Linked DNA regions of Homo sapiens. The protein of the gene in region 5 interacts with the protein of the main gene of each other region in a pairwise test. Each region holds a gene or a part of one and is shown on either strand. Other genes may lie near its edges. The genes, in order: ITGB2, STEAP1B, STIP1, ATXN3, FOXD4L6, LRIF1 and NDRG1.

The links.
Region 1: the proteins of FOXD4L6 (region 5) and ITGB2 interact in binary tests that used the Homo sapiens proteins (3 or more experiments, as listed by UniProt).
Region 2: the proteins of FOXD4L6 (region 5) and STEAP1B interact in binary tests that used the Homo sapiens proteins (3 or more experiments, as listed by UniProt).
Region 3: the proteins of FOXD4L6 (region 5) and STIP1 interact in binary tests that used the Homo sapiens proteins (3 or more experiments, as listed by UniProt).
Region 4: the proteins of FOXD4L6 (region 5) and ATXN3 interact in binary tests that used the Homo sapiens proteins (3 or more experiments, as listed by UniProt).
Region 6: the proteins of FOXD4L6 (region 5) and LRIF1 interact in binary tests that used the Homo sapiens proteins (3 or more experiments, as listed by UniProt).
Region 7: the proteins of FOXD4L6 (region 5) and NDRG1 interact in binary tests that used the Homo sapiens proteins (3 or more experiments, as listed by UniProt).

What each region holds. Positions count from the first base shown.
Region 1 is NC_000021.9:44,896,900-44,900,399, forward strand, and holds part of ITGB2 (integrin beta-2 isoform 1 precursor), read right to left. Parts: coding exon 3,421-3,500; intron 2,264-3,420; coding exon 2,168-2,263; intron 1-2,167.
Region 2 is NC_000007.14:22,497,389-22,501,554, forward strand, and holds the start of STEAP1B (STEAP family member 1B), read right to left. Parts: upstream 2,801-4,166; 5' UTR 2,726-2,800; intron 1-2,725.
Region 3 is NC_000011.10:64,192,671-64,196,170, reverse strand, and holds part of STIP1 (stress-induced-phosphoprotein 1), read right to left. Parts: intron 3,094-3,500; coding exon 2,884-3,093; intron 1,983-2,883; coding exon 1,841-1,982; intron 1,693-1,840; coding exon 1,551-1,692; intron 527-1,550; coding exon 358-526; intron 1-357. UniProt on the Homo sapiens protein: Acts as a co-chaperone for HSP90AA1. Mediates the association of the molecular chaperones HSPA8/HSC70 and HSP90.
Region 4 is NC_000014.9:92,103,783-92,107,759, forward strand, and holds the start of ATXN3 (ataxin-3 reference isoform), read right to left. Parts: upstream 2,801-3,977; 5' UTR 2,771-2,800; coding exon 2,747-2,770; intron 1-2,746. UniProt on the Homo sapiens protein: Deubiquitinating enzyme involved in protein homeostasis maintenance, transcription, cytoskeleton regulation, myogenesis and degradation of misfolded chaperone substrates.
Region 5 is NC_000009.12:41,125,935-41,130,057, forward strand, and holds FOXD4L6 (forkhead box protein D4-like 6), read right to left. Parts: upstream 2,748-4,123; 5' UTR 2,450-2,747; coding exon 1,196-2,449; 3' UTR 501-1,195; downstream 1-500.
Region 6 is NC_000001.11:110,953,923-110,957,422, forward strand, and holds part of LRIF1 (ligand-dependent nuclear receptor-interacting factor 1), read right to left. Parts: intron 1-3,500. UniProt on the Homo sapiens protein: Together with SMCHD1, involved in chromosome X inactivation in females by promoting the compaction of heterochromatin.
Region 7 is NC_000008.11:133,255,753-133,259,252, reverse strand, and holds part of NDRG1 (protein NDRG1), read left to right. Parts: intron 1-22; coding exon 23-85; intron 86-826; coding exon 827-887; intron 888-2,389; coding exon 2,390-2,476; coding exon of another isoform or gene 2,477-2,527; intron 2,528-3,500. UniProt on the Homo sapiens protein: Stress-responsive protein involved in hormone responses, cell growth, and differentiation. Acts as a tumor suppressor in many cell types. Necessary but not sufficient for p53/TP53-mediated caspase activation and apoptosis.

The DNA.
Region 1 (3,500 bases), on a different chromosome or scaffold from region 5:
GCTGCCATGACAAATGGCAAAGGATTGGGACCTGCTACTGCTGGTGAGGAGGGGACCGTCATGGCCACCTACAGATGGGACACAGGGCTGTGACATCCTGACCAGCAGGTGGTCTCTGTGGATGTCCGGCCCCAGCCCTGCCCTGCGCTGACCCACTGTCCCGGCAGCCTGACCAGCTCTGGGTGCCCACTCGGAGGGTCCCCCAGACACCTGCCCCCATCCCGTGTCTCCCGCAGGGTCCTGCTCCCACTCCAGAGCCCGGGGAACCTATGGCAGGAACCGCTGGTCTCGCTGTCGGCCCCAACACACCACGAGGTTGAGCTTGTAGCTGGGATACGGGCCTGACAATGGATCCCTGTAGTTCAGCAAATGTTCACTTTACAAAAGCAGCGGCCCTCCCGGGCACTTTCCTTCCCCAAACCCCGAGTATGTCTCCTCAGCCTAAGCAGCAGGGCAGGGGCTGTGAGGCTGCCCAGCTGGGCAGAGCCCCAGGCAGGGGGAAGAGGGGGCCCTGGTTTCCTGCGTGCCATTTTGAAGAAGATGGCGGTGATGGCCCTGGAATGGCCAGCAGGTCGGTCACTGTCCGGATGAGGATAATCGGGCCCTTTAGGGCGGCTGCTCTGTGAATTCCCTGAGTGGGTGAGCTCAGTACCCACGACGCACTGCCCGCCGGGCACCACTACCCCTTTCACAGATGAGGAAACTGAGGGCTCGGGGTAAGGAAGGGCCTGGGGCGTCCTGTGGTAAGTAACAGAGCTGGGTGTGAGGTGAGCCACCCAGGGCCCTGTCCACCCTGAAGAACGGGGCACGTGGCTGTGTAAAGTACAATGACAACTATCTCGTTCCTCCAGCTCCACCCTGAAGAACGGGGCACGTGGCTGTGTAAAGTACAATGACAACCACCTCCTTCCTCCAGCTCAGTCCTTCTGTCCCTGTGGCCTCAGGGCCACACACTGTGCAGGCTGCTATGGGCGGAGGCTCCTTTCAGGAGGGCGTGCAGTGTTTCCTTCCTTCTAGCGAATCCCTGTTACACAGTCAGGGCTCCACCCAGCAGGCCTGGCTGGCCACACCCCACACATGCCAAAGAGTGGTAGACCCCGGCTGAGCTCCTGAGAGGTAGCCTCTGAGCCCTTGGTACATCCTACCCGATGGGGGTGTCATTGTTCCTGGGGCCTCAGGTCACACCGGATAGTCCCACAGTGTGATTTGGGGTGGGGCCCTGGACAGTTTTCAGCTTGACCTCTGGAGGGCTAGAGACTGAGGTCAGCCATGGGGTGTCAGCCGCGCCGCTGTGACTGACCCCCAGTAGACACCGAGGCTCAAGAGCCTCCTTGGGGACCATGTTCTGTGCATGAGGCCACACATCATCGCTGGGAGGATGGAGCGCCGCCCACACCCCTGCAGGGAGGGGACACTGGGAGCTGGTGCCTGGTTTCTCTCCTGTGCACCTTTGACCTTTGCTGACTTTTGTCTGTATCCTCCCACCTCGGGCAGCGGCTGGCACCCAGGAGGGTCGGCTCTGCAATAAACTGTAACTGTGAGTTTACTGGTTCCTGAGCTCTGCAAGTCCTTCCGGCAAATCACTGATCCTGAGAAAGGTCTTGGGAACCCCAACAGCACCTGAGCGTCTTGACGCACTGACCTGCTCAGGCTGAACACATGGCACTAGCAGCGGAAATGCAGGATGAACGTGTTTCACTGGGGGCCTCTTTTTCTAGGAGCAGAGGCTGGTTATCAGCTGTGCTTCCTTCGTGAAATTCATCCCACTCCGCACTCCAAGCTTGTGAACGTTTTTGTGTAATTTTATCTTCACGGAGAGTGTTGATGTTCAAATGTATGTGAGCATAAAATAAGTGTGTTTCCATAAAATAAAGAATTGTGTTGTATTCCAGGAAAAAACAGAAATATCACCAATGCCAAGACATGCTGTTAACACAGCTGAGTTTCAGGGACGGGGAGGAATTCCTCCTCCTATCGACACGCAGGCGTCCTGTCCCCGACGGGAAGCCTCGGGCTCCTCACCTAGGGGGATCCAGGACCTGGGCCGGCTGGTTGCTCACGTGCCCAGCATGCAGAGGTGGCGCTCAGACCTGCAGTGGCGCTGGGTCTGGCCTGTGGCTGAAACATGCCCCCACCCAATGGATGCTCGGGACCCAACAGCACTCACCTCGTAGGTCTTCACCATCCTACTGGTCACCGCGAAGATGGGCTGGATGTTGTTTTCAGCCAGCTTGTGCGCCAGCTGGCCCACCGATGGGTAGTCCTGGAGAGAGGAGGTCCTGCTCAGTTGGCCCCGAGTCCAGGACAAGGCTTCCAGGTACCCGCCCCTGTCTGCCCCGCTCAGCGTCAGCCCTGCCCGTGCTTCGAACCCTCTCTGGGGAAGGCTGGAGAGGCAGAGGCTGCCACGCAGGAGTGCAGGGCAGAGAGCTGCCACGCCCTCTGGGCAATGTGTGCATAGACTCGGGCTTTCAGAGTCCAGGCATGAGCAGCATTTGAGGCGTCTCACCGTGGGACTGGGGATGTCCACGGGGGCAGAATCCCAGCCTTCCCCACACGGTGGACCTGCTTTCGCACTGAGGGACACTCAGTTTCGGTAGAGGCCATGAGTGTCAGGTGCGGCTCTCCCTACCCGAGTTCCGGGACCCGAGGGCCGTCCCTCCCGTCTGTGGCTCCCGGCGGAGGACCTGAGTCTTGTATCTCTAAAGTCCTTTGCGGCCCCCAGAGCCTACAACGTCAGGCTGCAAGAGCGTCGCACTACGGCCAGCGAGGACAAGCCCCTTGTGACCAGTGGTTGCCTCTCGGCCCACGGCTGATCCCAGCCAGAAGTCCTGGCCCCTCTGAGCCATTGAGATGCCTCCGCAGAGAGGCTCATCCTAACCCGTGCATCCTGGGCTCCTTCTCGCCTCTGTCCCTCCCTGCATGTTCCTCATGGTCCCCGCAGCCGCTCACCCAGCTCAGGCAATGGGGGCAGGGAGGGGCCACACTGGAGGAGGCGGACTCAGGGGCAGCAGGGAACGTACAGTGGAGGCCGGGAGGGGGAGGAGGCGGATGCTTGGGGATGGGACCCTGGCCAGAGGCGGGGACGGCAGGGTGCAGCCGTAGCCTGGGGGCGGTTACTATACCTCCACAGCAGCTGTCAGCCCAGGTAGGGGGGCAGTGGGGCTGGAGACCAACAGAGCCTGGGTGTCCCACAAGGGCGAGGCCGGGCCTCAGCCTGGCTGCCCCCACCAACCCTACCCTCCCCTGGCCTGAGGCCAGTCCGGGGAGACCCCACGCTGCCACTTGGGGCTTCCAGAAGTTTCCTCAGGAATCTGCTCCTTGGGTCAGAAGGAGGCTCTGTCAGGTGGAGACCCCACCCTTGTCTCCTCCGTCAGTGGTGTCCTGCCAGGCGGTGCCTGGGTGCCTGGGGTGGGGACTTACGAATTCGTTGCTCCTCTTGTACAAGTTGTCCTCCAGGTGACAGCGGCCGTCGTTGGGGGTCAGGATGGCGCCCAGCTTCC
Region 2 (4,166 bases), on a different chromosome or scaffold from region 5:
TCCTGGTGGCATATTTCAGTATTTAGAGTCCCTGAAACTAGATCCTGAATTTTTCAGTTAGACAGTCAACACATTCCCTTTTTTTTTGGTTTAAGTTAGTGTGATTTGGGTGTTCACCACTGGCATGTAAAAGAATTCTGAGTAAAGCATATGCCAATCATCAAGTATTTATGAACCCAACTCTGTGACCAACATTAAAGAGGAAAAATAGAAATGACACTCATGCCTGCTCTGGAGGAAATGACACTCTATCTCCTTAACAGCATTATTCCAAGTCATTTGGTGACTTAACCAACTGTATTAGGCTGTTCTCGCACTGCTATAAAGAAATACCTGAGACTGGGTAATTATTATAAAGAAAGGAGATTTAATTGGCTCATGGTTCCATAGGCTGTAAAGGAAGCATGGCAACATCTGCTTCTGGGGAGGCCTCAGAGGGCTTATAGTCATGGTGGAAGGTGAAGTGGGAGCAGGCGTCTTACATTATTGCAGTGGTCCCCAACCTTTTTGGCACCAGGGACTGGTTTCGTGGAAGACAATTTTTCCAAGTAGGGGAAGGGGGATAGGGTTTTGAGGTGAAACTGTTCCACCTCAGATCATCAGGCAATAGTTAGATTCTCATAAGGAGCACACAACCTAGGTCCCTTGCATGTGCAGTTTGCAATAGGGTTCATGTACTTAGGAGAATCTAATGCCACCGTTCATCTGACAGGAGGTGGAGCTCAGGCAGTAATGCTCGCTGGCCTGCCACTCCCCTCCTGCTGTGCAGCCCAGTTCCTAACAGGACACTGACTGATACCAGTCTGCGGCCAGGGGGTTGGGGACCCCTGCACTAACGTGACAACAGCACCAAGGGGGGATGGTGTTAAACCATGAGAAACTGCTCCCATGGTCCGATCACCTCCCACCAGACCCCAGCTCCCGCACTGGGGGTTACATTTCAACATGAGATCTGAGGGGGAGACACAGCTCCAAACCATATCACCAACTTAATAGTTTGTGGGGTGGGGGAGGGAGGTGCTAGGAATGGAAGTGTCACCTACTATAATCAAATGTAAGAAATAATCCACTATGTTTAGAAGATCTTTTAACTTTGAGAGGTGCAGGATGGTAAGGATGCTAACAAATCCACCCACATTTATTCAGTATGAATTCAGTAACTATATTGTGAACAACAATGTAAGGCAGGAGGAATGCAAAGTTAAATGAGATAAAGCCTCTGCTCTGAAAAACCTTGAGGTCTAGGAGAGAAGGCAGGCATTTCAACTGCATGGTAGAGCGATGTATCCTAGAAGAGGATAAAGTTTTATAGGCAGATGGTGGCATGGGAAGGGAAGTAGAGGAAAAGGCTCAGCGCTGTCTTCTAGACCCAGTCCTGGGGTAGCTAGCAGGTTGGCAGTGTTTGCTGACTGATTGCCACTACAAAGAGTCTGGGTGGAAAACCAGAGTGGCCCTGGAGAGTTACCCAGCCATTTGTCTGCATGGTAAGGAGACCACACTCAAGAGCGAAGCCAAGGAAAAGCCCATGACAGTGAGGAAGCTTGTTGACTGTGTGGCCCACACTCAACTCTATGCCCATAAGCCAGGAAAATAAACTATGAGTCAAATAAATTTGTTGGTTTTCATCAGACATTAACCAAAATGTAATTTAAGTTCTACAGTAAAATCTTTTCATAAAAAGAAAAATAACAGAAAACAACCTAGTGTTAAAATGTTAGGAACCCCAGAATTCGACCCAAAGTTCTCTTTCACCCGCTTTTAAAAAAGTGGAGCACATTTCTAATGCGACTGCTGTTTTGCTGTACCAAGATGGCTGCCCTGGTGTTCCTAAATGTTGGCACAGCCCAACTGACTCATGTTTATGTCCCGCAGTTGAGAATATGAAGAAACCCAATGCCTGGAATACATTGTGGGTTGCACTGCATTTCCAACCTTTTATACTTTCAAGTGCACACTTGTTTTACATTTAACTAAGTGAAGTCGAGTTTTTTGGGTTTTTTTTTCACTGTGCTGTTTTTCTTTTTAAGCATTGCTTTCCCTCTGTGCTTAACATTCATGTTAAATGAATAACCTTTTATTACACGTCAGGATGTGGAGGGAAATGTATTTTACAAAAGTAACAAAGTAAGAAATTTGGAAGTGTACAAAAAATTTATGTCTACAAACTCCTTCCAGTGGATTTGACCAGAATTACATATTTAAAGCCTTGATTGACTATTTTGGAGGGAACCTGAACCCCACCCAGATCCTGAAAGAGTAGGGCCAGTGTTCTAAGGACTGAAAATGAAAACCTCTGTTACCAGGAAACCCGAAGACGAGAAGTAGCACGATTTTAAGTACTGTGCACCAGTCATTCGTCAATGCACAGCAAACTCTGGCGACTTTGCCACGTTAAAAAACTTGCCATCAAAATCCAACCTGAGCACAAACTTAATAATCTACCACAACCTTAAGCCCCTAGCGAAAAGGCTTCCTCTGAGTCCCTGGCTCCCCCCAGCCCCCGGCCCGGCCACAACCCAGCTGGGCTGGAAGACAGGGCGCCCCAGAGCCGCGCATAAGCGAAGAATTGAGCACCGCTCGCCCAGGAGGGCCGCCGTCCAGGTCACGAGAAGGCTTGCGACCCGCTACACCCCTCCCAAGACTGGGAGCGGGCGCCCAGCCTTGCAGGGACACGCAGGCGGACTCGAGGAGCAAACGGCCAGTGAGAACGATTCAAGGGACTCACCCACTCCTCGCCGTAGCTTGACCGTGAGTCTCAGCTGCCGCTGCTGCCGGGAGGTGCCGGCCCCACGCGGCGCCTGAGCCTCCAGAGCGCGAAGCCTCCAAGCCTGCTGCAGGCCCCGCCTCCTTGTCAGTTGCGCGTCCAGCGCCACCTGCTGGCGCCCCGCGTCCGCAGGGTTCGGGAACGTCCTTGGAGGCTAAGACTCCCCAAGTCGCACTCCGGCCTCTCCCAGTTTCCTCTCAAATGCCGTCTGCCCTGCCCTTGAGGTCCGTTTCGCGCCCTCCAACCCCTCGCCTTTTGTTTAATCTCCACTAAGGAACGTTTGTGCATTTCTCTAGAGCAGTGGTTCTCAGACTTCAGCGTGTATAAGATTACCCGGGGGCATATTAAAACACCGATTGTTGGGCTGTCCACCCACAGTTTCCGGTTCAGTATGTCTGGGATGAGGTCTGAGATTCTCATTTCTAACAAGTTCCCATGAGATATGGAAGCATTCCCAGATCACACTTTGAGATAGACCGTTTAGAGCTTACAAACCCTCCCACACGTTAGCTTATTTATTTTTATTTTATTTTATTTTTTTTTGAGACGGAGTCTCAGTCTGTTGCCCAGGCTGGAGTGCGGTGGCGCGATCTTGGCTAACTGCAACCTCCGGCCCCGGGTTCAAGCGATTCTCCTGCCTCAGCCTCCCGAGTAGCTGGGATTACAGGCGCCTGCCACTGTGCCCGGCTAATTTTTGTATTTTTAGTAGAGACGGGGGTTTCACCATCTTGGCCAGGCTGGTCCTGAACTCCTGACCTCGTGATCCACCCGCCTCGGCCTCCCAAAGTGCTGAGATTACAGGCGTGAGCCACCGCGCCCAGCCACCTTATTTAAAACCTAACAGCCGGTCCTGAAGTGGCTGTGATTGACAGTTTGAGGAATCCGAAGCTGAATTTCTGAGAGTGACTTGCTCCCTGAATTGTTCAAATTGTGTACCTTTAATCGCACAAACCCTGCTCCCCAGCCGAAAAAAAAAACCCTTAAACCCCATGTTTACTCCGTCCCTCCCTTCCTTGCCTCAGCTTTTAAGTGCAGCTTCCCATATCCTAGCTCAATGAAGTATTCCAAACCTAAAGTAAAGTTAACTGTTAATATTCCAAGGTTTTAGAAAAAGACAACTTGAGCAGGGGATTTACTTCTCTCCGTTGGAACCAGCCTCGAGATAGGGTCTGAGACATGAATTGCAAAATTCTGGGGATTTGGTATACAACATTCTCAGGACTAAGCTGAGTAGAAAACACAAAGGAAAATAAACGCGCAACCACATTTTCCATGATTGTTTTTTATTCACAGCTAGGGCACCGAAGACTGTTCATGTTTTAATATAAGCATTTTCTGTAGTCACTGACTTTCCATGGATTAGTTTAAAGCCCTTTGAAGATTAAATTACCGTGGACTGACA
Region 3 (3,500 bases), on a different chromosome or scaffold from region 5:
GCCCACCTTGGCCTCCAAAAGTGCTGGGATTATAGGCATGAGCCACCGTGCCTGGCCTGAAGCTGATTTTTTAACATGCTGGCCATTCTAATGAATAATAGCCATAAGCTTAGCGCATACTAAAGCACTCAAAATAGTTTTAGGTGGGCACAGTGGCTCGTGACTGTAATCCTAGCTGAAGCAGGAGCATCGCTTGAGGCCAGAAGTTCAAGACCAACCTGGGAAACACAGCAAGACTCCGTCTCTAAAAAAACCATAATAATCATGGTCAATCAAGGTCAACAGATGTCCCCATTCAACATAAAGATTTCTAGTTGTTTATAGATAGGTGACAGTGAGGAGAGAAAAAAACAAGACCTGCTTCTTATTCTCTGGAAGATCTTCTTCCATTGGCTCTGGCTTGGTCTCCTTTTTGGGAGGGGGTGGTGGTGGAGGTGTTGCAATCTCTTCCTCCTCATCCATACTGCCCAGATCGACCCCAAGGAGGACGCTGAGAGTGGTCATGATCCGGGGATCTTGTAGTTTCCTAGTATTGATTTAAAAAAATAAAGAAAAATTGTAATTACTCCTCCCCACAATTAGTCTTTTAACTCCCACTTACTACTAAAGTCAGATTCTTGTGTTTAGAAGCTCCTCACCCATCAAAAGATGGCTAGATTTTGCACCACTCATGAGTTACAATTGAGAAATACTCAAACCGTCAAAACACTATCTAAAATAGAGTCAACAAAAACAAATAAAATGAAGTCACAGATAGCGGAGCACGGTGGCTCACACCTGTAATCCCAGCACTTTGGGAGGCCGAGGCGGGCAGACCACTTGAGGTCAGGAGTTTGAGACCAGCCTAGCCAACATGGTGAAACCCACCGCTACTACTAAACATACAAAAATTAGCTGGGCGTGGTGGCGTACACCTGTAATCCCAGCTACTCAGGAGGCTGAGGCAGGAGAATCGCTTGAACCCAGGAGGTGGAAGTTGCAGCGAACTGAGATCACACCACTGCACTCCAGCCTAGGGGACAGAGCGAGACTCCATCTTGAAAAAATAAAATAAAATAAAATAAAATAAAATGAAGTCACAGAGGTCAAGTTTATTCCTCAAGGTTAGCAGATACACAGAGGAATGAGTTGTTTTAGGTATACTTCCGTAGCTGATCTCAGGAGCCAGAGGATTGATAGAGATGAATACCAGTACAAGATTTAGACACATCTTTACACATGAACTTCAACCCTGTTTCCACTCTGATATACCAACAGAGAAAGTAGGGCCTAAGTAGATGGAAAGGATGGGGTTGACGCTAGATCAGAGTTCTAGAAGAGCAGGAGAGAGGTGTATACAGATGACAAAGAACATTCTAGATTACTGTGAAATATGCTCCCCTGACCCTTTCTATAATTACAAATAAACGACCACCACCTACTGCTCTGCAGAGAATAAGCAAAGGCAAAAACTCTGCAGTTTAGACCAGGGAACCCTCTGCTGTGAGGTTACAGGAAGAAAGCATAACATTCCCCGATTTCCAGAACCTCAGTGAGCGGCGTCCACTTACGTGCCCAGGTCAGAAGGCTTGTTTCGTAGCTGCTCTATCAGCTCCCGGTAGGTAGGATCACTGAGTAGTGTCCTTGTCCTGGGATCACTCTCCAACTTCTGATACAGATTAGGCATGTTGAAAGGGTTCATGAATTTTCTCTCTGTCCAAATAAAGGAAAGCACATCACTATGAAATGAGTTCACTAGAATTACTGTGTCCCATACCCTACCAGACTGACATTTCTCAGGGGTGAAGACTCAAAATTAATCACATTAATAATAAGAAAGAAAACTGTGCGTGGTACCTACCTGCCAACCTGGCCTCCATATTCTGTAAACCCTCTTTCAGTTGAGGGTTATTTGCCTCGTGTTTTAAGCCCTCCTCATAGGTTCGCTTGGCTTCTTCAAAGCGGTTTAAGAACTCTAGAGCTGCTGCTTTTCGTGAATAGCCCTTAAACCACCAAAGACAGACACAAAATAGAGAACACCCAGAGGTAAATCTAGAAGACGAACTCAAAAAAGAACAATTCTACTTTTATGGGGGAAAAATGAGTATTCACATGAAGGCCAAAGAGAAAAAAAGGAGAGGAGTAGGCTACGAGGCCAAGGCTGCTACTGTAAGGATCCATCCAAATAGCAGAGGCACATCCGCCCCGCCTTGTTCACCTCTGATCGACTGTGGTCAGTTTCTTTGGCAACACTTTTTCCCTTATTTTTTTGGTAAAGACAGGGACTCCTTATGTTACCCAGGCTGGTCCCAAACCTTTGGGCTCCAGTAATCCTCCTGCCTCAACCTCCCAAAGTGCTGGGATTATAGGCGTGAGCCACTGTACCGGGCCTCTTCCTTTTTTTTTGAGACAGGGTCTTGCCGTGTCACCTGGGCTGGATGCAGTGGCACGATTTCAGCTCACTGCAACCTCCGCTTGCCAGGCTCAGGTGATCCTCCTGCCTTAGTCTCCTGAGTAGATGGGACTACAAGCACATGCCACCATGCCTGGCTAAATTTTTTTGCATTTTTAGTACAGACAGGGTTTCACCATGTTGGCCAGGCTGGTCTTGAACTCCTGACCTCAAGTGATCCGCCCACCTCAGCCTCCCAAAGTGTTGGGATCACAGGCGTGCGTCACCGCGCCCAGCCCTGGCCTCTTCCTTCTTAGTACCAAAAATAAAGCCTGTATTACAACTAATGGCTACCTTAGATTTGATGAAAAATGCCATTTCTGAGGAGGATACTCAAACAGGGAGGTGGGTAGGTAACTATCAGTGTATCAGGACAGGTAAACCTCAGGCCACCAAAAGGCATTTCTGGAAGGGTCTGAAGGGCCTCTCTCCCTCCACTGCCCACAGCTGACCTTGCCCCAGTCAGGCTTTAGGTCGACAGTCTTGCAGCCATCCTCATAAGCCTTCTGGTAGTCTCCTTTCTTGGCATAGGCAGCAGAACGGTTGCTGTACAGCACGTGGTTGTGGGGATCCAGCTTAATAGCTTCGGAGTAGCACTGTAAGGCATCATCGATGTTACCCACGCTCAGGGCCTTGTTGCCTTTCTCCTTCAGCTCATTGACCTGAGGGGAAAGGAACACACAGCTTCTCTATGATGTGCCCATTTAATCCCAAGCTTTAAAGACAACACTCATTCTTTCATGTAGTTACCAACAAATAAATAGGTGACTTTACAGATCAGAAGAGAGAAAACCGGTTCATTTATTTAATTTCTCACACCTTCCCTAAGGAGCCAGCAAAGAAAAAATAAGCAGGGGCAAAGAGCCCAGGCTGCACTCCACGCTGGCCCCCATGTGACGAACGAGGGCTCTGCCACTCTTCCGGTCTCCACATGGAGCTCACGAAGCCACTCCAGAATGTGCCACATGCTCCTTCCATGGAAAAGTCAATTCATTTGCCACAGATTTCCAAAGCATCCAAATGACAAACAGAGCACAGCCCTAGTCACCCCTCACAGGAAGAAGGTGGG
Region 4 (3,977 bases), on a different chromosome or scaffold from region 5:
AGGAAATGGTTGCAAGGCCCTTCGTAGGCAGATATTGCTACCTACACAGCTTCTTTAGGGCCAAAGTTGGTTCTCTGGCTCTCCAAACCCAGGACCTAGCAAGGGTTAAAGGTATATTGCAGAGGGGAAGGCAGTGAACGGAAAAATGGCACAGTAAGCCCAAACATTCCCAGAATGGACTGTATAGGAGATTAACAATTGGGCCATATGGTTATAGGTGCGTACTCTTGAGGACGCCCAAAAAACTAAATTGTTGAATCTTCACATGCTATGTAGATACAAGTTGATGATAATGGTAAAGGTATTCCTGAAGTATCTGTAGGCCTATACACATGCTGATAATTAAGAGGGACTCTTTTTTCCTTTTCTTTTTTTTGAGACGGAGTCTCGCTCTGTTGCCCAGGCTGAAGTGCAGTGGCACGGTCTCGGCTCACTGCAACCTCTGCCTCTCGGGTTCAAGCAATTCTCCTGCCTCAGCCTCCAGAGTACCTGGGATTACAGGCGCCTGCCACCACACCTGGCTAATTTTTTGTATTTTTAGTAGAGACGGGGTTTCACCATGTTGGCCAGGCTGGTCTCAAACTACTGACCTCATGATCCGCCCGTCTGGGCCTCCCAAAGCACTGGTGTGAGCCACTGCACCCAGACTAAGAGGGATTTCTTTCGGGTAAGTAGATTTTCACTAGGCTAGCACTCAGCTTTTTTTCATCCCATGGGTCAGTACAAATGTGTCCCAACTAGGTAACAATATTGTTAAAAATCTTGTCTAATTCTCAGGAAGTAGTGTGGAACATGTTTAAGGCCTTCCATGTTGAAATGTGGTCCCACACCAAAGCCTTTGAAAATTAATAACAAAAATATGGCCGGGTGCGGTGGCTCACGCCTGTAATCCCAGCACTTTGGGAGGCCGAGGCGGGCGGACCACCTGTCAGGAGTTGGAGACCAGCCTGGCCAACATGGTGAAACCCTGTCTCTACTAAAAATACAAAAATTAGCTGGGCGTGGTGGCGGGCGCCTGTAATCTCAGCTACTGGGGAGACTGAGGCAGGAGAATCGCTTGAACGGGGAGGCGGAGGTTGCAGTGAGCCATGATGGCGCCATTGCACTCCAGCCTGGGTGACAAGAGCCAAACTCCATCTCAAAAAAAAAAAAAAAAAAGTACGTGTGTATTTTTCACGCACTCTACTCAGCCAAGCAACCAAATCTCTATTGTCTATGATTTACGAGTCATGTCAATCAAGTCAAAAAATTAGTGACAACTATACGACTGAGTCCTTCCTCCCCCACTGAACATCAGCCTATTTCAAAAGTTTCCGAGATGTTTTCTACAATGAAAAGCATTGTACTTAACAATTTGTTCCAGGCACAGTGGCTCACGCCTGTAATCACAGCACTTCGAGAGGCCGAGGTGGGAGAATCACCTGAGTCCAGGAGTTCGAGACCAGCCTGGGCAACACAGCGAGACCCCGTCTCTCCCAAAAACATTACCTGGCCCTGGCGATATGCACCTGTAGTCCCAGCTACTCTGGAGGCAGAGGCGGGAGGATCGCTTGTGCCTAGGAGATCAAGGCTGCAGTGAGCCATGATCTCTCCATTGCACACCTGCCTGGGTGACAGAATGAGACCCCATCTTTAAAATAAAAATTAAAAAAAATTTATGCTACAGATTTACATTTGGTAAATGTATTCTTTTGTCTTTGCTTTATTTGTTGTGTGTGTGTGAATTTTAAATGTCTGGGATAAATGATCATTTATAAGTATTTAATAAAACAAAAACCCTTTGCTCCTCCTATTAAATAACAGCCTTACCAGCAACTCTTTCCAAACACGAAACTATTATGAAACATGATACCATGTGCCAAAGCTGTCCTGGGGAAGGCTTCACTCACACACAAATGGCTGGATAATAGTATGAGAGAAACGAGGAGTTTCTTTACATATCACAAACAGTATCTTCAAGTGCATGGTCACGGAAGAGTTAAAGGGACAGCAGGCTAGGCAGACTACAACAAAATCATCCCAGTCCACTCCTAATACCTAAAAACAAAGCTGGCCGCCTGCTCCGGAAAGATGGGAGTACCAAAAGAAACCAAACCCAAACATCCCGTAATAAAAACTCTTGTGACGACTTCCCTGTTTAGGGGCACGCCGGGTTTCCTACTTCACTTCCTAAATGTCAGGCCCTACAGTGGGCGAGCCAAGGTCTCCTCCCTCGGGAGGCTCGCGGACCTAGTGCAGGGGAAAGACACGAACAAGACCCCAAAGATCTACGTGTAGGGAAGACTCCAATATAGAATTGAGCAGTCCGGAGGAGGAAAAGTTAATTCTGCCAGGATTAGGGTAGGAGGGGTTGAGGGAGGTGTCCCAGAGATGACTCTAGCTAGACCCTAGGGAGAGGGAAGGATTGGGGAGGGGTGAAGGAATCCTCCGAAAAGCGATGGAAAGTGACGGAGAAAGGCAGAAGCAAACCCACTGGGCGCCACCCCACTCCCGTGTCCCGAGACGCCCCCGGCCCCGCCCATACTCCCTCCCGGCTCCCAGGGCGGGGGCCGCGGGGGAAGTAGGGGCGTAGGTGATGCTCCCCTCCTCGAGCCGAGGAGGCGGGAGGCTGCGGCGTCGCCCCTCGCCGGGCGAGATCGGCATGGGGGCGACTCGGGCCCCACCCAGCCCTCCGAGAGGCGGTGATGCCGCGCTCCACGCCCGCCACCGCGCGGCAGACAGCTCCCCACCGAACGCGGACACTCACTTTCTCGTGGAAGATGGACTCCATGTTTATTTGTCTGGAGCCAACGGCCCCCACGCCGAACCACCCCCTCCAGCTCCGCCCCCTGCCCCTCTCCTCCGCCCACCCCGCCCCTCCCCGGCCCGCCCCGGTACCCCGCCCACGTGCCGCACGCAGACCAATCACCCGTGAGGATGCGAGTGTCGTGAAGCGAAGAGCGAGTGAACGCCGGGGACACGTGACCTTGGTAGCGCGTCCTCCTAGCTTCTGTTAGCGGGCCTTCTGGGGGATGCTACATCGCCACCTGCTGTCTGGAGGATCTTCTCCGCTTCCCACCCATTTCTATGGATTCTTAGGTTTCTGGGGGGAGGTCTGGACCGCTCACCTGGGTTCTATGTTCTTTTTGTTTTCCACTTTGACTTTCTACTGTGTTCATATAACTATTTACTTTCTTTCTCCTCCTCCTGCACTGAAAGTTTAGTAAGAAAAAAGCCATCATTACATTCTCCCAAAACCCAGCACTTGTATAAAAATGATAGCTAGGCCGGGCGAGGTGCTTCACGCTTGTAATCCCAGCACTTTGGGAGGCCGAGGCGGGCGGATCACCTGAGGTCGGGAGTTTGAGATCAGCCTGACCAACATGGAGAAACCCCGTCTCCACTAAAAATACAAAATTACCCGGGCGTGGTGGTGCATGCCTGTAATCCCAGGTACTCGGGAGGCTGAGGCAGGAGAATCGCTTGAACCCGGGAGGCCGAGGTTGTGGTGAGCCGAGATCGTGCCATTGCACGCCAGCCTGGGCAACAAAAGCGAAACCCCTCCCCCACCACCCCAAAAAAGAAAAAAAATGATAGTTAATATTTACATAAGGCTTTCTATGAGCTAGGCACTTTTCTAAATGCTTTGCATATATTATCAAATTTAATACAGCAAACTTTGATGTAGGTGTTGATGTTATTCATACACATGAGGAAACCGAGGCACGGAGAGGTTAAGAACAGCACAATGTCCAAGGTCAGATAGTAAGTTGTCTTGCCAGGATTCAAATCCAGGTGGCTTGTTACCAGTGTAGGTGTTCGGACCCTTTAGAGGGAACTTAGAAGTCCCATAAATTGTGTGGGAGACGGGGAGGTAGCAGCGGTTTGATGAAACTTAAATGGAAGGATAGGTGCAGATCTTGCACCTTGAAACCAGATTAAGGTGTACTTTTTTTTTTTTTTTTTTTGAGACGGCCCTCTCTCTGTCCCCCAGGCTG
Region 5 (4,123 bases):
TGTCTGGTTTCCCCCCACTCCGTCCCCTGACGCCGAGTAACACTTAAACCTTTCTAGTTGCAAAGTCTTTTCAGAGTTGTTTTTTTTTTAAGAAATAAGTTTTGAAAATTCTAGTGCTTAAAATATATATATATATATATAATTTATAGCCTTTTATTTTCTCTGAGTACATGTTGGCCACTACATTCCAAATTGATCTCAAATGGTTTTCCAGCTTGTTGAGGGGTGATGAAAAATAAATGGAGAATATATTTACATGCCCTCCTATTCTTTTCTTTTAGAAGTCTCATAAATAGTAAATTTCCTATTTTAAAAGCCAGGACATTTTCAACCTCAAATATTTGGAATTTTTAAAGGCCATATTAAAATGGATTACTTCTGCTATCTATAATAAATATGAATTGTGAAAATAAATTGTTTGAGGGAAAGTAACGTAGGTTTTAAAAAGTTCCATTTAGAAAGGGAAGAATGAGATGTAATAGAAAATAAACGATGTAGTGTAGTGACTTAGCATTTTATTTCGTCTATATAACTAGGCTTAATTTTAACACCTTAATTTTAACATTAAAGATGGCACGTCAGACACACAGATAAGAAATCAATGTTCTGAAATTAATATCCTACTTACATTAAACATCCCTATCAGGAAGACACAGAGAGTAGAAGCATTTTGCACTAGACTTAGGAATAATACTTCCAGCTCCAAGGAAGTGAAGAAGGGGGAACATGTTTGGCATCGGAGGCTGTGTTTTTGTTTGCTTGCTTGTTTTTCTTTTAATGCCAGAACAAAATACCCCACTCACGTTCATAGTACCCCAGGAAATGCGCAAATCGGGACAGCCATAGAAGCCACAACCGAAGGCAAGAAAAGATGACTTGACGCCCTGCGAAGGTTACGTTCAGGTGGTTTTTAGAGGAACGTAATCCAGCTGTTTCTTTCTAACCATTTTGCAGCGAACAGAAGTTCGTGTTTGCTCTCCAGCGGGATTCAGATGCACACGCCCTGAATGGGCCGCGCAAGGTGAAGTGAGCAGCTGCGGGTCGCTCCCCACTCCCACCTGGCTCTAGGAGGGCCCTGCGGAGTTGGCCAGGGAACTGGGCGTGGGCGATACTAAAAAAACTGGTGAGGTCCCCTCTCCGCCCAAAGGGGCAGCCAGCGATGTCAGCCTAGAGCCCTCTGCCACTGCCTGATACCTCAGCAGGGCCGACGAGGCCGACAGGTGCCCGCCCAGCACCGCGCCCTTGGTGGGAGCGCAGCCGTTGGCGCAGTCCTCCTCCTGATGCTGCTGCTATTGCTGCAAAATTGTCCGAGCAGCGGCGGCGGCGGACACTTGCAGCAAAGGGGCAGCGGTCTGGGGATGCAACAGGCTTGATGGTCGCTGGAGCAGGTGGCAGTAGCTCCACGCGGTCGGGGACAAACTCTGCGCAGCCCCTGTACCCGCTCCCCTGACCCCTTGCATAATACTCTCAATGCTGAAAGAGATGCATCCGCCTCCCGGTGGCGACGCCAGACCCTTGCCCTCCTCCCAAGGCTGAGGACCAAGTGAGGGCTGCAGCACGGGAAGGGTGCCGGGGTCGCCAGGGCCGCGCCTTCTGCTTTCTTCGGTGCCCCGGCATAGACGGGGGCCGAGAGCAGTAGGTAGCGAAGAGGATGCGGGTGCAGCAGAGCGTAAGGGCGTCTCCCGGGGGCGGTGTTGGGGTAGGCCCCCGGGACTGGCTGCGGCGGGGCAGGGGCCCCAAGCAGAGGGCCTGGGTGGGGGTTGTGCAGGGCGGCGTGTGCAGCAGGTAGAGGGAAGGGGTGGGGCAGGTGGGCTCCCGGGGTCAGTTGGTGGCGCTTGAAACGCTTCCTACGCCGGAGAAAGCTGCCATTGTCGAACATGTCTTGGGAGGCGGGGTCCAGGCTCCAGTAGTTGCCCTTGCCTGGGTGGCCCGGCTCGCGGGGGATCTTAACGAAGCAGTCGTTCAGCGAGAGGTTGTGGCGGATGCTGTTCTGCCAGGCGGGGAACTTGCGGCGGTAGTAGGGGAAGCGGCCACTAATGAAGGCGCAGATGCCGCTGAGCGTGAGGCGCTTGTGCGGGTTTTGCAGGATGGCCATGGTGATGAGCGCGATGTACGAGTAGGGGGGCTTTGCCGGCTGCCGGGCATCTTCAGAGGCCGCCGCAGACCTTGGCGGTGCCCTGAACTTGGTGCCAAACTCTGAGGGGTCGCTCGGGCCGCCGCCGCCCTCGATGTGCTCTCGGGGAAGCGCAACCCCGCCCCACCGGGCCACCTGCAGCCCCGGCTGGAGCGACTGCTCTAGGAACTGCTGGCTCGCCGCCTCCTCCTCGTCTTCCACCTCGTCTTCATCTTCCTCCTCTCCCAGGACATCGATTTTACCGTCTTCCCCATCGGAGTCCCGGAGGCTGCGCTGCGGTGTGGAGCGAAGGCGCTCAGCTCTTGGCAGGTTCATGGAGGAGCAGGTGCTTCAGTCGCAGGGGATGTGGCGACCGATCACCTAGCCTGGGGCGGGCTGAGCTGGAAGCCTGGGATGAATGTTGCAAGAAGCAGGAACGCTAGTGGTTACCCTTTGGGATGTTTTCGTCTGCTTGTTTCTACTCCTTTGCAACAACGTCCGGCAAAGATGCCTTTGCCTTTTATAAAAGCTTCTTCAAGACCATGTGTGGTGGACTCCCCCCTTTATAACCCTTCTTCCCCTACCTCGGAGCGGTGCCACTTCCTCCTAACGTAGTCCAGGGATGATGGTCTTCTGGGCAAACACCCGTCCGGAGAAAAGCCCAGCCCCCTCCTCCTCGCACCCACCTGCCACCAAGGAAGATGCTCTACTCATCCGGTGCAGCCAGACAGTTGGCAAGCCTTTGCACGGGTTCTGTTAAGGCGCATTTAAACCCGCGCAAATAAAAGCGAGGTAGGAAAGTATGATACTCAACATTCTATGACCACCTCAACATGCAGCCTTCCCGCCTGGAGAAAAGAAATGGTGGGGCAGGAGGCTGAAATGTACACGGTTGTTTGTAAAGGAATGTGTAACCGTAAAAGTATGTTTTTGTGTTTCACAGCTGGTAATCACCCATTTTCATTGGTAGAGTCTGCCCTTACCCAGAATGGTGAGCTGAATTATATTTAAGGTTCTGACAATATTCCCAGGCTTCAGGGGGGTGTTGCTTTGCTCCTTCTACCTTCCTTCCCACCTCCTCAAGATGCTCTCCCTGACTCAAATTTTCAGAAAAGGCTCAAATGTCCCAGCACTAAATTGTGTAAGTTTACTCAGGGAAGGCAGGAGAGCTCACACGGAGTCCTCTGTCCCCTTGTAGCAATGGTTCTCCAATTTCTTTGAATATTTAACCACAGAAATACATTTTATATCACAATCTCACACATACAGACATAATACATAACTAAGATGGGTTTCACGAAACAATATACTTACACTATAGTGATCACTGATATTTCCTTTTAAAAAAAAATGGCCATAACCAACTAAATTGATTTCACACATACCAGTATGGGCCCAGTTTGAAAAATCCTGTTCTTACAAAGTGGCCCCACATACAAGAAATGCACCCACTCTATAAGGGCTTCTCTCTCTCCCTTTCCTCCTTCCTTTCTTCATCCTTTATAACCAATTCATTTTTAGAGACAGGGTCTATGTTGCGCAGGCTGGCTTTGAATTCCTGGGCTCAAGTGATCCTCCCGCCTCAGCCTCCTGAGTAGGTGGGACTACAGGCGTGCCACTATGCCTGGCTCTGGCTCTTCATTCTTTTTTTTTTTTTTCTTTTTTTTTTTTTGAGACGGAGTCGCTCTGTCGCCCAGGCTGGAGTGCAGTGGGGCGATCTCAGCTCACTGCAAGCTCCGCCTCCTGGGTTCACGCCATTCTCCTGCCTCAGCCTCCCAAGTAGATGGGACTACAGGCGCTCGCCACCACGCCTGGCTAATATTTTTAGTAGAGACGGGGTTTCACCGTGTTAGCCAGGATGGTCTCGATGTCCTGACCTCATGATCCGCTTGCCTCAGCCTCCTAAAGTGCTGGGATTACCGGCGTGAGCCGCCATGCCCAGCCTCTTCATTCTTTCAGAAATGTCAACATTAAGTGCTTTTACTGTAATAAAACTTGGGACTTCAATGA
Region 6 (3,500 bases), on a different chromosome or scaffold from region 5:
ATATCATAGATTGTCATCATATATTAATATGTTTGTCTATAGACTGTCTCTCATATTATATTCTACCAATATGAGTGCAGCATCCATATACCATAGACCTAGCATGGTCTTAGATAACTAAGATCAAATAAATACAAAAGTTCAAGGGCAAATAATAACGATAATAATTAGGATTCTCAAAAGCATAAAGGTATGTTTTTAAAACTCTCAGGTATTAATAAAAATCAATACCCAAAATTCTATGTATCCGTAGAAATTTGGTTTACCTTTCTGCAGCCCGAATAACATTATTATATCCTTACAAAAATTTAAAAGTCTTTTGGACACGTGAGAGTGGGTCAAAATATTACATTGACATTTTGTTATTGTTGCTGTTGAGACAGGGCCCGGCTCTGTCATCCAGACTGGAGTGTAGGTGTACAATCTTGGCTCACTGCAATCTCCACCTCCTGGGCTCAAGCTATCCTTCTACCTCAGCTTCTCAAGTAGCTGAGACCACAGATGCACGCCACCAAACCCGGCTAATTTTTGTATTTTTTATAGAGGCAAAGTTTTGCTATGTTGTCCAGGCTGGTCACACACTGACTTTTAATAAATTAAAAGTTAACTTCTAAAGAGAATAAACCCAAAGAAAAGGATGAATTCTTGCTTTCAGGGTTTTAAGAGGAAAAATCTACCTTTATTACCTCCCTGCACCACAAGAAAAGCACATTTGACCTGGATAAGAACATATTCAATATTAAGTCATTACACAAAAATTTACCAAGTGTCTGTTTTAAGTTAAGCACCAGGCTCATCAGGAAAAAAGGGTCAGTAAGCTGTAGCCTCTGGGCCTAATCTGGCCCACTCTGTTTCTGTGCATTCTTATATTTTAATTGATTTTTAAAAATCAAAAGAGTAACAGTAGCCTCTGTAGTGGCTCCTCAGTCTTCTTTGCCAACTCATACTTTTGAATCAACTTTCAAATGTTGGGAGTTTACCAAAGCTTAGAAAGAATCCTTCTCTTCCTATTCTGTACTCTTTTGTTAGATGCTTTCTTCTCAATGCATAACTTCAATTAAATTATCACTTACGCATGAACAATTTCAATATTTCTATCTGTGGCTTCTTTGAAATTTAGGCTTATACATCCAAATTCCCTTTTAACATTTTCATTCAGAATCTCAAACGTTCCTAAAATTCAACATGGCCAGCAGATCTCTGCCCATCCTAATCCCCCCAAGTTCCATCTTCTGCAGGGTTTTCTTTGCTAAATAGCATCTCATCTACCTTAGGTGCCTTAAGTCAGAATAGATAAATCCTCCTTTCTTATTCCTTATATTCAGTGATCACAAAATCCTGTTGATATTGTCTCCTAAATTTCCTTTCATCTGTTCAATTCTCTCCAAATCAACTGTTACCACTCTACTCCAAGCAAACATCATCTCTGGCTTAGAATACTACAATAGCTTCATGACTGATTTTTTTCTCCAATCATATCTTCTACCTTTCAATTTACTCAGCACACTAAAACTGATCTTTCCCTGCTTAAAACATTGCAGTGGCCTTCCATTATTCTTAGAGTCGTAGGAAGAAAACCATTGCTTCTGATGCAATGTTAAGCCAAAGGAACAGAGGATTTTAAGAAAATTGGGCAATTATACTAAAAGTTTCTGAGATGCCAAATAGGATAAGGATTAAAAATGTACACTGAAAACAGTGCTGTGAAGATCACTGATGGCTTTAATAAGAGCAGTGTGGTAGGGGAAAGAAGTTGCTGAGGAGTGGGTATGAAGCAAGTAGACAACTCTTTTTAAACTTTGACTGTCAAGGGGAAGAGAACGACTGGCAGGAAGCTACAGGAATAAATGGAATCAAAGAAGGGATCTTTCCTTTTTCTTTGTTTAAGGTTAGATTAACCAGAACATATGTAAATACTCAAGTGAGCCAGTTCAGGGAAGAAACTGGTAATAAAGGAACAAAAGGGATACACAATGAGAAGGAGGCAGGAAATGGAAACCAGAGAGACAGGTGGAGGGACTCAACCTTAAAGAGAGCTGGAGACCTATCTCCTTCCATTGCAACACTGGAGGAGAGATTATGTGCATTTTCAGGTAAGCATACAACTTTGGGGTTAGGAGGCTGAGGTAATTCTCATTTAATGGGTTTTATTTTCTTTATGAAAAATCACATGACATCATCTGCTAAAAGTAAGAGCAAAAATATGGAAAGATTTGAGGATAATCAAAGATTGGAACAGTCTTCGTGAAGGAGTAAACTGACCACAGAAGATATTAGAGTTGCCAGGATGTGTTGATGGCATGGGGAGACAGGTAGTGGTTATGAATTTATAGTGGTACTAATCTGTACTCGAGATTTTTCTTGTCACACCAAGCACAGATAAAGAGAAAGCATACTGAGTTCATCCAGGGTTGGGGTGGCATCAGGAAGGTGCAACAAAAAAATCAAAGAAGAGCAAAAGAATTTAAGGTATTGATAAGAGTTATTAAAATGAAACAGAGTCTAAACTGGATAGGAAGAAAATGAGAGAATAAAAGGCTAAAGTATAGGGATAAAATAAAGGGATTATTGGTCTGTAGGGCCAGATAAAGTTAACAGTTACAGTAGGAACAGTTAAACAACTCAGCTAGAAATACAGGAACTGGCATTTAGAAAACAGGATGCGTGAAACAGTTTCGTAGATGCAGCAATTTCATCTAATAATAAGTACTACAAAAGTAGATAGGTGCAACAGAACAGAGAATAAGATCACTGGGGGAAAAGATCTCTGTAATAAAGATGAGGTGACAAAGAGATTATCCATACGGATATTGAAATCACATGAGGGAAGATGGTGAGCTAGATGGTGAACTAAGCGCCAAGTTCAGTGACAGGAAGTTGGTAGATGGTGTTAACAAGCTGCAATTAAGTGATATGCCAGAAAGTTATCTTGAAGCCTACTTTCTTCTGCAGTCTATTTTCTTTCCTATTATTCTACTAAAACTTCATTCTCAAAGATTACCAAATATGTTCTCACAGTTAAATTTGTCTTTATCTTCATTCCCTAGGTACCTCTCTGTTGCAACTAATTATCCCTCCATATTGATCCTCTTACCTATCATAGTTTCCACTGTGTACAACCTCTGTTTCTCTTGACTTTCCTAATGCTCCCTTACTCATTTTCTGCATTCTAAGCATTCTCCTTTAACTATCCCACATTTCTTGACCCTGTTTTTCTCCTTCAAGACATTCTTCCTTAAAGACTGCAACAATTCGCCAGGTGCGGTGGCTCACGCCTGTAATCCCAGCACTTTGGGAGGCCGAGGCAGGTGGATCACGAGGTCAGGAGATCGAGACCATCCTGGCTAACACAGTGAAACCCCATCTCTACTAAAAATACAAAAAAAAAAAAAAAAAAAAAATTAGCCGGGCGTGGTAGCAAGCGCCTGTAGTCCCAGCTACTCAGGAGGCTGAGGTAGGACAATGGAGTGAGGAGGCGGCGGAGCTTGCAGTGAGCTGAG
Region 7 (3,500 bases), on a different chromosome or scaffold from region 5:
GGCTTCTCTGTGTCATCCCCAGGTACATGTACCCCTCCATGGATCAGCTGGCTGAAATGCTTCCTGGAGTCCTTCAACAGTTTGGGTAAGAGCGAAGGATCAGCTCCTTCTCTGTCTGCAGAGAAGCCTGGTTTCTAGCATCTTCCTGCCCCTTGGCTTTGATCTGGACTGACCACTAAAATTAAGGTTGCAATTTAGAGATGAGGCAAGAAATTAGCTCGTCACTCTGTGAACACTGTTCTTCACACAGTCTCTGAGCTCTAGTCTGTCTCCTCTAACTTCAGTTTTCCTCTTGCGTGAATGTTATATTGCATGATGGCAGCTGCCCCACCCATTTGCTCTTGCCTCCTGTTCTTCCATTCCCTTCTCTTTCCCATGGAATGTTCTGGAATGGAGTTGCCTGAGTCCTTAGCTTTTCTCTCCACACCCTCATTTTTCCAGTGTTCCTCTCTGTCTTGAGCTCTTCAAAGAATGATAACTTCATGGTTCTTGCTCAATTTGTTTTCATTCCAAGTTTTAGAATCCAAAATAAAGCTTAAGAGTGGGAAGAAATGATGCCGTAACGGGCCTTCCCGTAAATGTCAGACGGTCTCTCAGAGCCTGGGTGGCGGCCAGGAGGGAAGTGAGGAGAAGGGGCGCGGCTCTCCAAGGTCGAGGTCTCTGTCCAGTCCTAAAGCATGGTGACCTCAGAGCTGTGCAGGCAGTTACGGCAGCATGCTCCCGCATTGCCTAGCCAGGCGGTCACCCTCAGGAAGTTCTAAGTGGGTCCTTGGAGGCTCCCGTCACTCTGTCCTTGTGTGACATGCATTTGTATTTTTGCTTCCAGGCTGAAAAGCATTATTGGCATGGGAACAGGAGCAGGCGCCTACATCCTAACTCGATTTGCTGTGAGTGCTTTGGCATTTTTTGAAAATCGCATTTTAAATAACATTTTAAGATGAAGGAAGACATTGGAAAAGCATCAAAAACCCAAAAGGGAAAAAGAAATGACCCGTATTCTCCACAGTTGTGTGTGTGTGTGTGTGTGGTGCATGGGTACTCGTATATATATATACTCACAGCCTTTTCTCTTCCTCCACTCAAGGATGATACTGGACACATTCCTTTGTCATGGGCTTTGTCCGCTTAGCCATCTAGTGAGGACGCTCCTCACTCACTGAGTACTCTGCTATGACACTGCTTTGTAACAGCTGTACAGGTTTTTGTAGTCAGGGCACTCCTGGGTCATAACTGATTCTAAACTAGAATCAGACACGGGAAGTTTTCATGACAGTTGTCATTGTTATTTCTCTGGGCTCAGGTCAAGAGCCACTGTTCCTTTGTATCCTCACCGAGCAATTGTGTAAGAATGCAACAATACTCATTTTGTACATCCATTGGTATTTTGACTACCTATTATTTGCTGGGCTTTGCTGGAGGTTGGGAATACTGACATGATTCTACAACATCCATCTTACAAAAAAAAGAAAGGAATGCTGACATGAATACAAAATGGTCTGGCCATATAGGCTCTCAGCAAATTAAAAATGGTCTCAACTGTACCCCAGGTGTACATATCTATATCTGTATGTATCTGCATCACATAATGACATTTTGGTCAATGACAGACTGCACATTTGACAGTGGTTCCATAAGATTATAATGGTTCATTTTTACTGTACCATTTTTATGTTTAGATTTGCTTAGATACATCAATACTTAGCATTGTGTTGCAATTCCCTGCAGTATTGGGTAGCGTCATATGCTGTACAGGTTTGTACAGCAAACCTAGGAGCAAAGGGCTGTTCTATACAGCCTTGGTGAGTTGTAGACTATACTGTCTAGGTGTGTGTAAGTATACTCTGAGATCTTCACACAATGACAAAATCTCCTAATGATGAATTTTCTCAGAAAGTATCCCTGTTATTCAGCGATGCATAACTCTGTCTCTCTCTCTGTGTGTGTGTGTGTGTGTGTGTGTGTGTGTGTGTATGCATGTGTTTATCCTGGAAGTAAGTAATACAGTTGTTACTGCCACAACTAGAGAGCATTTGTGCTGTGCGCCTTGTTTGATTGATGAGGTCGATGGTGTGTTACACCCATTTGATAGCTGGAGAAGCTGAGCCTCCGTGGGTTGAAGTGACTTGCCCAAGGCAGGCCTGCAAAGCAGCGGGCTTCCTACTTCTCCTGCACTTCCTCTTTCTCCTTCCCACTCTCTCTAGGACCCGATACCGTGTCTGCTGTGCTGGAACCTCAGTTTTGCATGGGGTGGGGCCGGGGAGCAGCAGCCTGCTCTGCTGCCCACACTGCCTTTTTCTGGGTACTTCTCTCAAGCTTTGGTTTGCCTTGGAAAGTTCCTAGTGTTTCAGATTGCTGGGATGTCTGTCTCACTTTGTGTCTTGAATTGCAGCTAAACAACCCTGAGATGGTGGAGGGCCTTGTCCTTATCAACGTGAACCCTTGTGCGGAAGGCTGGATGGACTGGGCCGCCTCCAAGGTGAGGTGGGGGCCTGTCAGGCCGGCGGGATCCCTGCAAGAAGAGGGACAGGTGCACACAGCCTCTGCCTGGGGGATCCCTGGAGCTACGAGCTCTCTCTTTACCCACTCCTCCACTACCCTCTACTGCCCACTCCAGTTCCCTCTGCTTTACTTAGAACAGTACACATGACCTCAGCCGTTTGCCATTCAGAAGACTTAAATACCACCAAGCTGTCTAAGCCAGGGAAAGCACTGGGACACAGGTCCCTGAGGCAGCTTGGAGAAGCATTGCTTGGATTAATGAGTATTAGCTGGGTACATAACTTGTGCCAGGCTTTGGTCAAGATGCTGAGCATCTTGAAGAACAAGACTTCTTGAGATGAACAAGACAAAAGCCTCTAGGAATGAATCTTAGGAATCCATTCACATATTATTAAAGAAAAATAAATATGTATTTAGTACGGACTGTGCCACAGAATTTTACGATAATAATTAGCTAACGTAGATTGAGAGTTTACCATGTGCTAGTTTCATTCTACGTTGCTGTGTGTGCATGATCTCAGTTAATCTTCATAGTAACTCTAGGAGGTGAGAATTTTTATCACCGTTTCAGAGGTAAGGACTCGGTGTGGCTAAGGGGATTGTCCAGGGTCACATAAAGCTAGGCAGTAGAACGGGGACTGGATGCAGCTTGCTTTGACTTTGTGGTTCGTGGACCTGACCACCCGTGCCCCTGGGGCTCCTGTCCAGGGTGGGAGACAGGCAGGCCTGGCAAGCAGGGTAGGCTGCCTGGAGGAGAAGGGACCTGTGCTGTCTTGGGAAGCTCTGTCCTGGCTGGTGTCCTAAGGTTCCTTGTTTATCTTTTAAAAATTATCATTGTGGTGTTTTTGTTTTTGTTTTTTTCCCTGTAAAGGCCTCAGTGTTGGCCAAGGAGAGGGGGAGGTCATTCCAGTTGAAATAGGACAGAGTCTTTCAAGCTGAGGTGATCGCAGCTTCTCATTCTGCAAGTGCATTTTTGCCCAATTTTGGGTGGCTGCCAGGGA